Regions from separate parts of the Homo sapiens genome. Here region 1 is linked to region 2. The links come from fine-mapping of genetic effects on gene expression. Tissue or cell type: whole blood. Region 2 holds a variant in brackets; the other region holds the start of a gene. All regions are shown on one strand. Distances are between the middles of the regions.

Region 1 (8,104 bases), 51 kb before region 2:
CTCCATTGAAATCATGCTGGGGTTCTTATACCCTCCTACAAGATCATTCTTTATATCCACGACGTCCACGAGGCCTGAGAAAGCTACCTTGATTCTCCTCAGGTCATAGCCCAATGGTGGAATGCTATTCTGCTTACAGTTTATGCCTCTGTTCCCACTGATCCCGGATCCATTGATGGAAACTGTGTCTGAGTCATTCTTCAAGAATGAGGCCATTGAGAGACAAATATCAGCTCCTAGAGAAATGCCCCAAAGCCCAGTGCCTGGGCCTTTTACCTGGGGATGTTGAAGCATGTAGCATAGGGCTTCTTCGAAGTACTCCAGGGGTATGTTGTCCACGTTCTTGGGGAGATCTTCAAAGTTATAACAAGCTAGAGCGAACGTGGCAAAGCCATGGCCAGCAAGGAGGCTGGCTCGATATTCCAACAGGCTCCCTCCATTACCAAAGATGCCAATGATCCCTAGGAAGGGTCCAGGTCCTGGCGGCAGGAAGAGCGTGGCGCGCACCCGGCCCGCGCGCACCGAATCGCTCCGCACCCCTTGTGGGAGGAAGTCGCGCTCGTGCCGCGCCTGTCACAACAGCCGTCCAGGCTCGGGGTCGTGGCCGTCCAGCACCTCCAACTCCACGATAAAGGGAATCTGTACGTCCCGCTTCAGAAAGCGCCAAAAAGGTTTCTTGGATTCCAGGGCCCAGAGCAGCCCCATGGACTCTAGCCCCCTAAAGCTGCCGCCCAGCACGGGCGCGCGCTCCAGGTCCAGCTCGCCGCGGGCGTCGGCGCAGTAGCGGAAGAGCCCAGCCTTCTCGTCGCGCAGGGACGCGCGCGCAGCGTGTCCAGCGGCTCCGAAGCCAGGCCGCGCATGGTGATGCGCACCGGCTTGTCTCGGCAGCCGCGGCCCGCGGGCTCCAGGATCAGCGTTGCTGACATCTCGGAGCTGGAGCGGGGAATCTTAAGGTCGAGGCCCGAGGCCCGTCCAAGATCGTGGCAAGTGCGCCGATTGTCCAGAGGGCGTCCGGCGTCCCCTGGTGCCGGGAGCGGCCGGTGGCTGAGCAGTCCCAGAAAGCGCCTGGGACTTTAGACCAGTTAACCCGGCGCCCTGGACTCGTCTGAGGCAAAAGGAGCCAGACTCCTCTCCTGGGTCCTCTCCTTGGGCCCCGGGGAGCGCAGACTTTTTTTTTTTTTTTTTTCCTTTTTTTAATTTTGAGACAGGGTCTCGCTCTGTCGCCCAGCCCGGAGTGCAGTGGCCGATCCATAGCTCACTGTAATCTCGATCTCACAGGCTCAAGCTATCCTCCTGCCTTGGCCTTCCGAGTATGTGGGACTACAGGCATGAGTCATCACGCCTGGCCTAAGCCATCACGCCTGGCCTGATTTTTTTTTTTTACTTGGAAAAAAATATATACTTCACTCCCACAAAGTATTATTTTAGACTCCTGCCCCGTTATTCCTAGAGAATTAAAATTTCCAAGTAAAGTAAAAACAAAAAAGTAGTGAAGACAGAAGAGTATTTAACCATATCGCTGTAGAAAATTGTATTGAATATTCTAAGGCATGTGCTTGTCCTTTTTGTGTCTGTTGGTAGAAAAAGAATAAACATTAAACTCAGCTTAGTATTTCCAAAGTAGTAAGAAACACTTTTGCACATAAGGATACTTTGGGAAACCTTGTTTCCCCCACTGTCTTTACACTGAGTGAGTAACAAGGCTCTGTAAAGACGCAGGGGAATTGGTCACTAGCAGGCAAGGCAGACATCAAGCACTGTAAGAAATCAGAGACTGACTTCAAAGAAAACTCAGCGTTTACTGATAAATTGTGTTATATTACCCCATCAATGGCTAGCCTTCATGCCATGAAAATGCATCCATGTTAATGATGTCACTGTCTTACCTAACTGCAGGTGACAGCTGCCATGACATAGAAATGACATTGAACTTAAGGAAAACACTATACTGTTGCAAAATCCTTGTTAAAACCAAACATCTTAAATGCATTTGAAGCAGCGTGTCTAAGCCACGTAAAATCAAACCCTTGATAGTTATTAGCTGGCCTTCTTCTATAAAGAAAGCTTTCTTTTTTCTTTGTGCTTATTTAATGGGGTACAATCAATTATAGACATAATTGGTGGCACAGGGAAAATAATTATTTCAAGTAGTTTTTAAACACTAGCTGTATAACTAAGAGGGACATATAAAAACAGGGATTGGCAAACTTTTTCTTTAAAGGGCCTGATAGTAAATACAGTCAATCTTCATTCACAGATTCTGAATTTGTGAATTCATCTACTTGCTAAAACTTTTTTATAAACCCAGAGTCAATATTTGCAGCACCTTTGTGGTCATTTGTGGACATCCGAAGAGCGGTGAACCTTTTTGAGTCCCTTAACAGGCATGTTCTCAGCCAAAGTCAAACAAAGTGACCCTCTATCTTCTTATTTCAGCTCTCATACTGTAAACAGGTACCCTTTTTGCAGTCCATTTAGTACCTTGGCTTCTCATATTTTTGTTTTTTGCTGGTGATTTTGCTGTTTCAAAGGGACCCCAAATGTAGTAGTACTAAAGTGCTGTTGATGTTCCTATGAATGAGAAAGCGGTCATGTGTCTTACAGAAAAAATACATGTGTTAGATAAGCTTCATTCAGGCATGAGTTATGGAGCTGTTGGCCATGAGTTCAATGTTAATGAATCAATAATATATATTAAAGTGTTTAAATAGAAACACAATAAGGCCAGGCGCGGTGGCTCATGCCTATAATCCCAGCACTTTTGGGAGGCCAAGGCGGGTGGATCACCTGAGGTCAGGAGTTTGAGACCAGCCTGGTCAACATGGTGAAACTCCGTTTCTACAAAATACAAAAATCAGCTGGGCATGGTGACATGCATCTGTATTCCCAGCTACTCTGGGGGCTGAGGCAGGAGAATTGCTGGAACCCGGGAGGCGGAGGAGGTTGCAGTGAGCCAAGATCCCACCACTGCACTCCAGCCTGGGTGACAGAGCAAGACCCTATCTCAAAAAAAAAAAAAAAAAAGAAAAAAAGAAAATAAACACAATAAAATAAGCTTATGCATTCATCGGTTGACTAAAATGTGACCAGATGCTTACAGGAAACTAACCCTGTATTTCCCCTAGAAGCAGTGGAATGGTATTCACTAATTCCGTGTTTGTAGCAAGTTTATAGACCATAACTACTGTGAATAGTGAGAACTGACTGTATTTTAGGCTGCGTGGGCCATCTGGTCTGTGTAACTACTCGAGTCTGTCCTTGTAGCTCAAATATAGCAATAGACAGTACACAATCAAACACGGCTATGTTCCAATAAAACTTTTATTTATGGACACTGAAATTTGACATGTATGATTTTCATATTTCACAAAATATTGTTCTCCTTTTCATTGTTTTTACCATTTAAAAATACAGAAATGGAAAATATAGGAACTGGCTTCCCCGAATCTCCGGAGTCACACGGTCTCAAATCCCAACAGCCACACCCAGTGAAAGAATCCCACCCAGGAGCGCGCCAGGGACAGACTCGCAGCGCCGTCCTCGCTCACAGGGCTCCCTAGTTGGCACTATAGAGAGGCGGTCGCGGGCGCCCCTCTTTAACGCGCCAGCCATCTGTCCCCGCTCCCCTCCAGGCCCTGCCGCGCCGTCCCCAGGCGCTAAGGGACTCGAAGCGCAGCCTCGCTGGGACGGACCTAGCTCCGGCTCCGGGTTCACGCAGAGCAGGGGCTGCACCAGCGAGCGGACCCTTGAGACTGGCCGCGCCTGCGCACTCCGTGAGCGCGCCCGGCCCTCCCAGCAGCCTCCGCGCGCAGCCCGTTAGGCCCCGGGGATTGTGGCGTGACCCGGCAGCGGCTTCCTCCGTTCGGGCATCGCTGTGCCTCGGGTTCGCGCCCCGAGTGAGCAGTCCTGGCCCGGAGCGTCGGTCCTGGTAATCTGTAGGAAAAGCGCTGCGGCCCAGGGGGTAAAGAGAGGTAAGCGGGGCCACTGCAGTATCGCAGAGGGGCGGGAGCCCGCGCCTCAGGCCCGGGTGTGTGTGTCGTGGGCGTGACGGGGCCGGGGCTGGGACGTGACGGAGTCTGTGCGGCTGACTTGGGTGCAGAGACTATTGTATGAGCGAAGGTTGTTGTGGCCGTGGAGTGCGTGACTGACCCCAGCATCCTCTGCCCACACCGGGCCCAGCTGCAGAGAAATGGCCCTCGGTCAGTTTCTGCACGCCAAAGACTCCCAGCAGAAACGCGCAGACTAGGCCGGACCAGGTGGCTCACATCTGTAATCCCAGAGCTCTGGGAGAGCGAGGCGGGAGGATCGCTGGAAGCCAGGAGTTCGAGACCAGCCTGGGCAGCAAAGCGAAACTCCCATCTGTACCAGAAATTTAAAAAATGAGCCGGGTGTGATGGCGTGCTCCTGTGGTCCCAGCCACTCGAGAGGCTGAGGCGGGAGGATGGCTTGAGCCTAGGAGGAGATTGAGGCTGCAGCGAGCTATGATAGCACCACTACTCTCCAGCCTGGGCAACAGCGAAACAAGGCTCAGACCCGACCTTGGGATAGGAATATTAGAACTGAACGAGCCCCCGCTCCCGCCCAGGCTTGCTCCTGGAAGGGACTCCCACACCACCTCCTCGCGGACCCGGACCCACGCACGTGCACTCACAACTCTGAAGAGTCCAGCTGCAGGTTTCAGAACCACAGCATTGCTTCCAGGAAGCTATTGTGAACTCCAGTTCTAGCCCCGGGCATCCATGACCCTGGCCTTTCTTTGATACTGGGAAGAGTTAACAACACCATCTCTCTTATGTTACTCTGGTTATGTGTGGGTGGGCGGTGGGGGCATTGTGCCCTATGCGAGGCTGGGCTGCAAGAAAAGCCTGGTTCCCTTATTAGCCAGTCCTGCCCAATTCTTTAAGAAAAGGGGTCCGAGCGGGAGGAGGAATGAATTGCTGTTGCCTGTTTAAGTCAAGGTCGAGGCGAGTGGGTGTTTCTGCTTTCTTCTGTGAAATGCATTCTTATTTCTTAGGACATGAGAATATTTGTTTCATTCTCCATAAATGTCCTGTCCATTGAGCTGATACCTAGGTCCCCTCCCGAGAGCCTGTATGCACATACCCATTTGGTAGATGTTTTTCATTACTTCTGTGGGCCTTCTTTTAATTACTATGTGTAAAGTTCTTAGAACAGTTCCTGAGACCTCGTTAGTACTTAATAAACCTTAGTTATGTATTCTTAAGTAGTGATTTGGAGCAATTCTACATCAGCCTTCTATAGATGGGGGGAAAATGAAAATACTAAGCCAATTGTGGTGAGTATTTCCTAGTAAAAAATAAATGAGCCAGATCAGATGCTTAAATAGTCTAAAACAGGAATTCTTTTTTTTTTTTTTTTTTTTTTTTTTTGAGACAGGGTCTTGCTCTGTCACCCAGGTTGGAGTGCAGTGGCACAATCTCAGCTCACTGCAACCTCCCTTTCCGTGGTTCAAGCGATTCTTATACCTCAGCCTCCCAAGTAGCTGGGATTACAGGCCTGCACCACCACACCCAGCTAATTTTTGTATTTTTAGTACAGACCGGGTTTTACCATGTTGGCCAGGCTGGTCTCAAACTCCTGGCCTCAAGTGATCTGCCTGCCTCGGCCTCCCAAAGTGCTGGAATGACAGGCATGAGCCACCGCCCCCAGCCTAGAACAGGAATTCTTTTTTTTTTTTTTTTTTTTGAGACGGAGTTTCGCTCTTATTTCCCAGGCTGGAGTGCAATGGTGTGATCCCAGCTCACCGCAACCTCCGCCTCCCAGGTTCAAGCGATTCTCCTGCCTCAGCCACCCTAGTAGCTGGGATTACAGGCATATACCACCACGCCTGCCTAATCTTGTATTTTTAGTAGAGACGGGGTTTCTCCATGTTGGTCAGGCTGGTCTTGAACTCCCGACCTCAGGTGATCTGCCCGCCTTGGCCTCCCAAAGTGCTGGGATTACAGGCATGAGCCACCGTGCCCGGCCATAGAACAGGAATTCTTAACCAGAAGTAATTTGAATTCATTTGAGGCTTTCAGGGGACCAGATACTCTTTGAAATTGTACGTAAAATTGTTATAGATATCTGTTAATATGCCACTTTTATGGGGAGAAAATATGTAATTTAATGAGATTATCAAACATGATCCATTAAGATTCAGATCTACTGGCCTAGAATCAAAGTCTGTAACCTTTGAGAATGTTTTTCAATGTTAGACACAAAATTAGTGTCTAATAGTAGGAAATGATTAAATAAGCCACACTCCATGTGATGCAGCTTTTTGCCATTAATAAATACTGTTAATTATGAGAAGGAAAAAAAGCTTGTGATCGATGTTGTCTAAGCAATAGTTTTGAACAAGATGACTCACAAAACCTTTAATCATGTATGAATCGCTCTTAATAAGCTAGAGATTTATAAAACATTTTGCAAGGATTATACATAATATAAAACTAGTTTCTTAGTGGAGAAAAAAAGATAAACTGTTGTTTACCACACTGTTCTGTCTGCTTTGGTATACTTTTACTGAATTTAGGAATGTCGCTTGATTGTGTTCATTCATAGAAGAATCTTGAGAGTGAAAATAGCCCATCGTTTTGATGAAGAACAGTTAAAGAACTGATGGGTGTTACTTATTTGTGCCACACTGTTGTTTATTTTCCCAAAACCCACTCATGTCACAGGCTTATAGAATCACAATTTTCTTAACAACTAAAAGATATTCCTTCTTCACAACTCTGTTTTTAATTCTATGTGTATGAAAATAGTTTAATTGGCTGGGCGCAGTGGCTCACGCCTGTAATCTCAACACTTGGGAGGCTGAGGTGGGCAGATCACCTGAGGTCAGAAGTTTGAGACCAACCTGGCCAATATGGTAAAACCTGTCTCTACTAAAAATAGAAAAATTAGCTGGGCACAGTGGCGCCTGCCTGTAATCCCAGCTATTTGGGAGGCTGAGGCAGAAGAATTGCTTGAACCCATGAGGCAGAGGTTGCAGTGAGCCGAGATCCTGCCATTACACTCCAGCCTGGGTGACAGAGTGAGACTCAGTCTCCAAAAAAAAAAGAAAGTCCTGGTTTAAGCTGCCAACTATATTTAGTACTATTCAGAACAGATTTTCTCCATCCCCTACCACCCAGTCATCTTCACTCTATAAGAATAAAATTTAAGTTGCCCGTAGTCTCACCATCCACAATAAATATTACTATTCTAATGTTTGCTTTTCCATTTTTTTCTGTGCACTTGTGCACATGTGTTTGTTTTCCAAAATAGAATCACAACAATTGATCATTTAAGGAGACAAAGACTCTGCAACACTTTGTTTGAAAAAGGAAAAAGAGGTTGGGCCTGGTGGCTCACGCCTGTAATTCCAGCACTTTGGGAGGCCAAGGTGGGCGGATCACCTGAGGTCAGGAGTTCCAGACCAGCCTGACTAACATGGTGAAACCCTGTCTCTACTAAAAATACAAAATTAGCCAGGCGTGGTGGTGCATGCCTGTAATCCCAGCTGCTTGGGAGGCTGAGGCATGAGGACCACTTGAACCCGGAAGGTGGAGGTTGCAGTGAGCCGAGATCTTGCCATTGCATTCCAGCCCGGGCAACAGGAGCGAAACTGTCTCAAAAAAAAAAAAAAAGTATTTAATATGATACCTTATCAAAGCAAAATTCTTGAGCTGGTTTTATGATATGGAATGGTGTCCCTTTGGAGCTACTAGGGATGGAAAGTAACAGGGGCCTTGCTCTACTTTTTGATTTCTGTGAATCCTTTTTTGATAACATTATTAAGAAGAATTACATAGGCCAGGTGCGGTGGCTCATCTCTATAATCCCAAGACTTTGGGAGGCCGAGGCAGGCAGATCACGAGGTCAGGAGATCGAGACCATCCTGGCCAACATGGTGAAACCCTGTCTGTACTAAAATACAAAAAATCAGCCGGGTGTGGTGGCATGCTCCTGCAGTCCCAGTTACTTGGGAGGCTGAGGCAGGGGAATCACTTGAACCCGGGAGGCAGAGATTGCAGTGAGCTGAGATCATGCCACTGCATTCCAGCCTGGCGACAGAGCAAGATTGTGTCTCAAAAAAAAAAAAAAAAAAGTAGAA
Region 2 (8,104 bases):
GCCTCAGCCTCCCGAGTAGCTGGACTACAGGCACCCACCAGCATGCCCGCCTAATTTTTTTGTATTTTTTAGTAGAGATGGGGTTTCACCGTGTTAGCCAGGATGGACTCGATCTCCTGACCTCGTGATCCGCCTGCCTCGGCCTCCCAAAGTGCTGGGATTACAAGTGTGAGCCACTGTGCCCAGCCTGTTTTAATTCTTTATCAGGCAGTTCAGACATCTCCATTTCTTTAGAGTCAATCACTGGCACTTTATGTTGTCCTATTGACGATGTCATGTTTCCCTGATTGTTGTTGATCTTTGTGACCGTGCACTGATGTCTGCACACTTGAAAGGACTGTGTATTTATTCCAGTCTTTGCAGAATGAGGTTCATCTGGGAAAGCCCATCAATAGCCCATGCAGTGGTTCTGGGCAGCCTGTCTGGTTTGGTCCTTAAGGCTGGGGCTGCTACGGTGGGTATAGTGCTGGGATGCTCCAAAAGGCTGGAACCACATTCTCTGGTGTTGCACATAGCATGCCCCAAGCCCAGGGCCACTCTGGCTGGTGCAGTGCTGGGGCACGCTCAAAGCCTGAGACCACTGTGACTGGTGCCATACTGTTATGTGCCTGATTGCAGAGGCCACTGAGGCTTGCCTGTTGCTAAGGGCTGTTGGAGCCCAGGGCCTCTGATGTCAGCCTGATGGTGGTGGCAGCCTGGAGATGGAGTTCATCATGCAAGCCTGAAGCCTGGGCTGCATGATCTTTCCTGATGCCAGAGCAGGTCTAGAGGGTCAGTCTGTGGCTACTGGCCTGGAGTCTGGGGTTGGGAGTCTCCCTGTTGCTGGGTTTTACTATGGCGGGCCTGGTGTTAGGGAACAGGCAAAGTTCTGTGCTCACTTCCCTGACTTTTCCCCAAGTGGGCAATACCTCTGTCTACACTGTGCTGCCTTGAGCTGGGGAGGGGTGACATGGGTAATGTCGAGCCGTCCTTCCTGCACTCTTCAATGCTTCTTTTCTTATTATTGTGCTACAACCCAGTACTGCGATCTCTCACCTGGTTGCCTTAGCTATTGTGAAGGCATTTTTGTTGATGGATAATTGCTCAAACTGATGTTTCTGCAGGTGGACCATAGATGGAAAGAACTATTTTGCTATCTTCTGAGATTTAGCATTTTTTGAAAGATTATTAGCTGGGCATGGTGGTGCCCAACTATAGTCCCAACTGCTTGGGAATCTGAGGTGGGAGGATTGCTTGAGCCCGGGAGGTCGAGGCTGCTGTGAGCCAAGATCATGCCACTGTAGTCCAGCCTGGGTAACAGAGTGAGACCGTGTTTTTGAAAAAACAAAACAAAACAAAACCTACTGTTAGTTATTCCTCTTTTTTTTAGTGAATTGCTGATGATCAGATTTCTCCTGGTGAAGTAGAAATCCTTGCTTCAGAGACAAATACCTGAGTTGAAAGAGAAACTGGCTTTTAGGCTGGGTGTGGTGGCTCACGCCTGTAATCCCAACATTTTAGGAGGCTGAGGCGGGTGGATCAATTGAGGTCAGGAGTTCGAGACCAGCCTGGGCAACATGGTGAAACCCTGTCTCTACTATAAATATAAAAATTAGCCGGGCGTAGTGGCAGGCGCCTGTAATCCCAGCTACTTGGAAGACTGAGGCAGGAGAAACGCTTGAACCCTGGAGGCAGAGGTTACAGTGAGCCATGGTCATGCCACTGCAGTTCAGCCTGGGTGACAGAACAAGGCTCTGTCTGCAAAAACAAACAAAAAAAACAAAACCAAAAAAAGAAAAAAGAAACGGGCTTTTTAGTTAGAGAAATGTAGATTCAAAACAAATGTTGGCAACTTAACTGATTTGACCCCTGGGCATTAGTTTCCTGAGCTATTAAAAGGAGAGCACTACATTGCAGAACAGTACCGAGGACAACTGACAATGTGTATGAAGTACCCAACACATAGAGGTTCTCAATGAATATTGTTGACCAACTGCAGGAATCATGAATCCCTTCTGTCCCCAGCTTGGATACTAAAAGGAAAGTGGGGCCGGGCACGGTGGCTCACGCCTGTAATCCCAGCCCTTTGGGAGGCCGAGGCGGGCGGATCACCTGAGGTCAGGAGTTCAAGACAAGCCTGGTCAACATGGCGAAACCCCGTCTCTACTAAAAATATAAAAATATAAAAATTAGCTGGGCGTGGTGGCATGTACCTGTACTCAGGAGGCTGAGGCAGGATAATCACTTGAACCCGGGAGATGGAGGTTGCAGTGAGCTGAGATCGTGCCATTGCACTCCAGCCTGGGTGACAGAGTGAAATTCCATCTAAAAAAAAATTAATCAATAAAAGAGAAGGAGTGGTGAAGGATGTCATGGTATGGGAGGCCCTGATTGGAAAACTGGAGTGGCGAGCTTTCCTGGCTGGGGAAGGCAAGGGTAGCCTCACATTGGCAGAAGCTGCCAGGTTCAATCTGTGTGGTCTTTTAGTTGCTGTGTTTAGGTAGTTCAGGCAGGATTCTAGGGGCAGGATTCAGGGCCCTTCTCAGTCCTGAAAAGTTGTCCTAGAGTGAGGAGGAGCTGCTCAGAACAAATCTGAGTAATCCAGTGTCTGGACCAGATCCACATTGCTAGAGGGCGACCTGGTCAGAAATCCTCTTGCAGAAGTAGCTAGGCTTCTACACCAAGTTCATCATTTGTCACCTATTTCTTCAGAGCTTGTATTTCTTTCTTTTTTGCTCTTGTTGCCCAGGCTGGAGTGTAATGGCGCAATCTCAGCTCACCGCAACCTCCGCCTCCTGGGTTCAAGCGATTCTCCTGCCTCAGCCTCCCGAGTAGCTGGGATTACAAGCATGTGCCACCACGCCCAGCTAATTCTGTATTTTTAGTAGAGGCAGGGTTTCTGCATGTTGGTCAGGCTGGTCTCGAACTCCCGACCTCAGGTGCTCCAACTGCCTTGGCCTCCCAAAGTGCTGAGATTACAGGCGAGAGCCACCGTGCCCGGCCAGAGCTTGTTTCTCTTTAGACTCCCTATACTTTTCCCCAGTTATATGTGGGTATAGGATAGGGATGGGCATAGTGGTGGGTGGTACTTTGGAAAAGCCAATGGAAGTAGTTTGGGAGAAGGAATGGAAGAGAAAAAAGTTTTCA[T/C]ATTTATGATGTACATCATTTTGGGAGCTCTGTGGCGCAGCTTATTTCATGGTTTCTTTTTCTTCTTTCAGCTCTGGCTTATCAGGACTCCATAGTTCTCCAACAGAGAAATCTTGAAAAGGACTGACCAGTTTTTGCAGTTCTAAAACCATGGCCCATGTAAGTTAATGTTTCTCTGTCCTTTTCGAAATACTGTCAATTTCTGTATCATGTATATAGATTCATTCTTTATTCTGAAACTTCCTGCTTACCAGAGCTTCATCCAAGAACCTGCTCCATGGCTGGACGCAATGGCTCACGCCTGTAATCCCAGCACTTTGGGAGGCCGAGGCAGGCGGATCACTTGAGGTCAGGAGTTCGAGACCAGCCTGGCCAACATGGTGAAACCCTGTCTCTACTAAAAATACAAAAATTAGCCAGTGTGGTGGCAGGCGCCCAGGAGGCTGAGGCAGGAGAATTGCTGGAACCCGGGAGGTAGAGGCTGCAGTGAGCCGAGATTGCGTTACTGCACTCCAGCTGGGGCGACAGAGCAAGACACCATCTCAAAAAAAAAAGAACCTACTCCAGTTCTTTTCCCTCCTGTGAGGATTGGGACAGATAGCCCAGTATCCTATGTGGCTATCTCTTCTCCCACTAATGTTGAGCATCTCCTACCTACAAAATCTTCTGTCAATAGCTGTGAGAAAGCGGAAATGAGATGCCTTGAGAAAATTGAAGGCATTCTCTGCAGAATGTCCTCCTGTTAACATCTTCCAGTGGAACCGCTTTTCATTTTAAAACTTAAACTCCAGAAAAAGTATATTTTTCTCAGTACAGTGCTTTTTGTCTTAGTTTTACATAGAAAAAATAGGTGTCCCCAATACATAATATGACATTTTTTTTTTTTTTGAGACAGAGTTTCACTCTTATCACCCAGGCTGGAGTGCAGTGGCATGATCTCGGCTCACTGCAACCTCCACCTTCTGGGTTCAAGCAATTCTCCTGCCTCAGCCTCCCAAGTAGCTGGGATTACAGGTGCCCGCCACCATACCTGGCTAATTTTTGCATTTTTAGTAGAGATGGGATTTCACCATGTTGGACAGGATTGTCTTGAACTCCTCATCTCAGGTGATCTGCCTGCCTCGGCCTCCCAGAGTGCTAAGATTACAGGTATGAGCCACTGCACCTGGCCACAATATGACATTTTTAAAACGTTTTTGAAATTTTTTGTGGAGGAATGACATATATACAAAAAAATATACAAACCATAAGTGTATGGCTGGATGAATTTTCATAAATTGAGTACATCTATGCTATCAGGTCAAGAAAGGAAATCACCTCAGATGCTTTCAGTCACTCCCCACCCACCTACTGCCCAGGGTAACCACTGTCTTGATGTCGAACACTATAATGTAATTTTGCTTATTTTTGGAACCTTGTTCAAGTGGGGCAGGTGTGGTGGCTCATGCCTGTAATCCCAGTACTTGGGGAGGCTGAGGTGGGCAGATCGCTTAAGCTCAGGAGTTCCAGACCATCCCGGGCAACAAGGCAAAACCGTGTCTCTACAAAAAATACAAAACCTAGCTGGGCATGGTGGCACACCTATAGACGCAGCTACTCAGGAGGCTGAGGTGGGCGAATGACTAGAGCTCGGGAGGTGGAGGTTACAGTGAACCGAGATCGCACCATTGCACTCCAGCCTGGATGACAGAGCCAGACCCTATCTCAAAAAGACAAAACAAAACAAGAACTTTGTTCAAGTGGAATCATATAGTTCAATACAATTTTTTTTTTTTGAGACAGAGTCTCGCTCTGTCGCCCAGGCTGGAGTGCAGTGGCAGGATCTCGGCTCACTGCAACCTCCGCTTTCTGGGTTCAAGCGATTCTCCTGCCTCAGCCTTCTGAGTACCTGGAGTTACAGGCGCCCACCACCACTCCCAGCTATTTTTTGTGTTTTTTTTTGTAGAGACGGGGTTTCACCATGTCGGCCAGGCTGGTCTCAAACTCCTGACCTCAAGTGATCCACCTGCCTCGACCTCCCAAAGTGCTGAGATTACAGGCATGAGCCACCATCCACCATGACACCCAGCCTTTTTTTTTTTTTGACAGAAGGTCTCACTCAGTCACCCAGGCCGGAATGCGGTGGTATGATCCCAACTAACTGCAGCCCCGACCTCCCAGGCTCAGGTGATCCTCCCACCTCAGCCTCCTGAGTACTGGGGACTACAGGCACGTGCCACCACTCTTGGCTAATTTTTAAAATTTTTTGTAGAGATGGGGTCCCACTATGTTGCCTAAGCTGAACTCAAACTCCTGGGCTCAAGTGATTCTCCCACTTTAGCCTCCCAAAGTATTGGCATTATAGGTGTGATCCACCGCACCTGATCCAATACAATGCTTTTTTTTAAAAAACAAAAATAACATCCAGGAAAAATCTTGTTATATCCCAAATACAGTTGTTAGACCAATGGAACCATCTGCAGATGTTTTGAAATGTGTATAACTATCATTCAAGGGCATGTGTGTACCTGGTGCTGCTAGTGACTGAGGAGGTAACAGAGCACCATCCTGAGTGTCAGCCGTTCCCGCTATCACGTTCTTGTTGGAAACACTTTTCCATACTGTGCTTCACATATAGCCCTCATTTTTGTCTAGTGTAAAATGAGTTCCTAAAAGATTGGAAAAGTATTGAAGAAAATTGTGGAGAAAGAAACCAAGCAAATGAGAAAAATGAATTTAGTAAAAGAGATGATTAAAATACTAAAAGCAAAGATGTTGTGTGTGTACTGACCCACTGTGTCCCATAGTTCTATATTGGAGGAAAATGTGCAAAGCTAGTTGGAGGGATGGAATTGACATATAACTCATTATAATGCTCTGATTTCACATAATGGGAGGCCGTGTGTAGTGGCTCACGCCTGTAATCCCTCCTTTGGGAGGCCATTGCTTGAGGCCAGGAATTCAATGTTGCAGTGAGCTGTGATCACATCACTGCACTCCAGCCTAGGCAACAGCCTGGGCAACAGAGTGAGACCCTGTCAAAAAAAAAAAAAAAAAAAAAAAAAAAAAGAAAAAGAAAAAGGAAAGAAAGCAAAGAAAGAAAGAAGGAGGAAGGAAGGAAAGAAAGTAAATAAAATGATGGGAAAATAGGTACCTGGTTAATCGTTAGAATGTCTGATTTTCAGGAATGGATTACTGATGTTAAGTGGGAGGTCCCTATTTTGAGCTTTCCTTAAGATCTGTGATTTGATGAAAGAGAGAATTTGGTCTTATCTGACTGCTTATAGGGAAAACTCTAAACTTCTCCACAGATCTGAGTTTTTCAAGTATATAGGATAGGATTTAGTGTTGACTGACCTTAGTTTTTATGTATGTTGAGACCCTATACTATGTAAGGCTTTTAGGTGGATTGGGTAGGGATGTAATTGGGCCTTATAAGATAAGGCCTAAACTTTCATGTGTGCCTTGACAACTTTGTCAAGACCCTAAAGGCCTAACCATGAGTTCCCCTGCTCTTACCCGATATGCCCACACCCAGCGGGAAAGGCTTCCTACCCAGCTAGTTCTCCTATGAGCTAGACCAGTTACACCCCTCGTCGTCCTCAACCTAATGGGTTTCACCTCCCTGCTAGCCTATGGAATTATTCAAACAAGCCAATCACATACCACTGCAGGAACCAGGGAACACCTCACCTTGTTATTACTGTAAAGCCTGCCTCCCATACCCCTGCTTGTTCATGCTGTTCTTAAATGCAATCCCCTTGTGCCCCTGCGTGATGTATGATGTCCTCTCTCAGGCTCTGAATATATGCATCGAACAAATTGCTGTCAATCTCATCTGTCCAGTGTGGGCTATTTGATTGTCTTGTACTTTTTAGGGCAGGGATCCCTTCTTCACCAACAGGGTGAATAGGATGTGATCAGAATAGGACTGCAAATAGATACCTCAATCAATGGAGATTTCCTCCTGCGGAGAAGAATGCCAGGAACGAGGTCCATTGTGTATTTTTACAGGATGTGCTGGTCTAGAGCAGGATTTCTCAACCTTGGAACTATTGACTTTTTTTTTTTTTTGAGACCGAGTCTTACTCTGTCGCCTAGGCTGGAGTGCAGTAGTGTGATCTCAGCTCACTGCAACCTCCGTCTCCTGGGTTCAAGTGATTCTACTGCGTCAGCCTCCTGAGTAGCTGAGATTACAGGCTCCCACCACCACACCCAGCTGATTTTTGTGTTTTTAGTAGAGACAGGGTTTCACCATGTTGACAAGGTTGGTCTCAAACTCCTGACCTCAAGTGATCTGCCTGCCTTGGCCTCCCAAAGTGCTGGGATTACAGGCTTGAGCCACTGCACCTGGCCTGAACTATTGACATTTTGATGGGGAGTCTTTTATTGTAGGGGGCCGTCCCGTGCATTGTAGGATGTCTAACAGTGTCCCTGGCCTCTACCCATTAGATGCCTGTAACACTCACACCCTTTCCTCCGATTGTGACAACCAAAATTGTCTCCAGATATGGCCGGATGTCTTTTGGGGAGCAAAATGACTCCTCATTGAAAATGATTGATACAGGGGGCCGGGCGCGGTGGCTCACGCCTGTAATCCCAGCACTTTGGGAAGCCGAGGCGGGCGGATCACGAGGTCAGGAAATCGAGGCCATCCTAATTAACGCGGAGAAACCCCGTCTCTACTAAAAATACAAAAAAAATTAGCCGGGCGTGGTGGCGGATGCGTGTAGTCCCAGCTACTTGGGAGGCTGAGGCAGGAGAATGGCGTGAACCTGGGAGGCGGAGCTTGCAATGAGCCGAGATCACGCCACCGCACTCCAGCCTGGGCGACAGAGCGAGACTCCGTCTCAAAAAAAAAAAAAAAAAAAAAAGAAAAGAAAAGAATATGATTGATAATGGTGTCCAGGTGATATCTTTATGATATCTTCATGATTCAGTGTCCTGTAACTCAGGAACAAAAAAACAATGTTCAAGAGATGATAGATAGTGACAAGCA

Evidence for each region. PIP is the estimated chance that this variant, and not a neighbour inherited with it, causes the effect.
Region 1: ZFP82 starts here. The variant in region 2 is fine-mapped to the expression of ZFP82 in whole blood (TOPMed, PIP above 0.99).

The regions. Positions count from the first base shown.
Region 1 is chr19:36,414,359-36,422,462 of GRCh38, reverse strand. ZFP82 (ZFP82 zinc finger protein) reads left to right here and starts at 3,819. Exons shown (of 5, transcript NM_133466.4): 1 at 3,819-3,971. It also overlaps the pseudogene ACOT4P1. RefSeq lists enhancers at 78-760, 4,291-4,450.
Region 2 is chr19:36,363,065-36,371,168 of GRCh38, reverse strand. ZFP14 (ZFP14 zinc finger protein) reads left to right here. Exons shown (of 5, transcript NM_020917.3): 2 at 3,198-3,285. The coding sequence starts at 3,277. Among named protein-coding and RNA genes, the nearest start is that of ZFP14, 12 kb to the left of the region's middle. The variant T/C (reference allele first, on the strand shown) is at 3,127.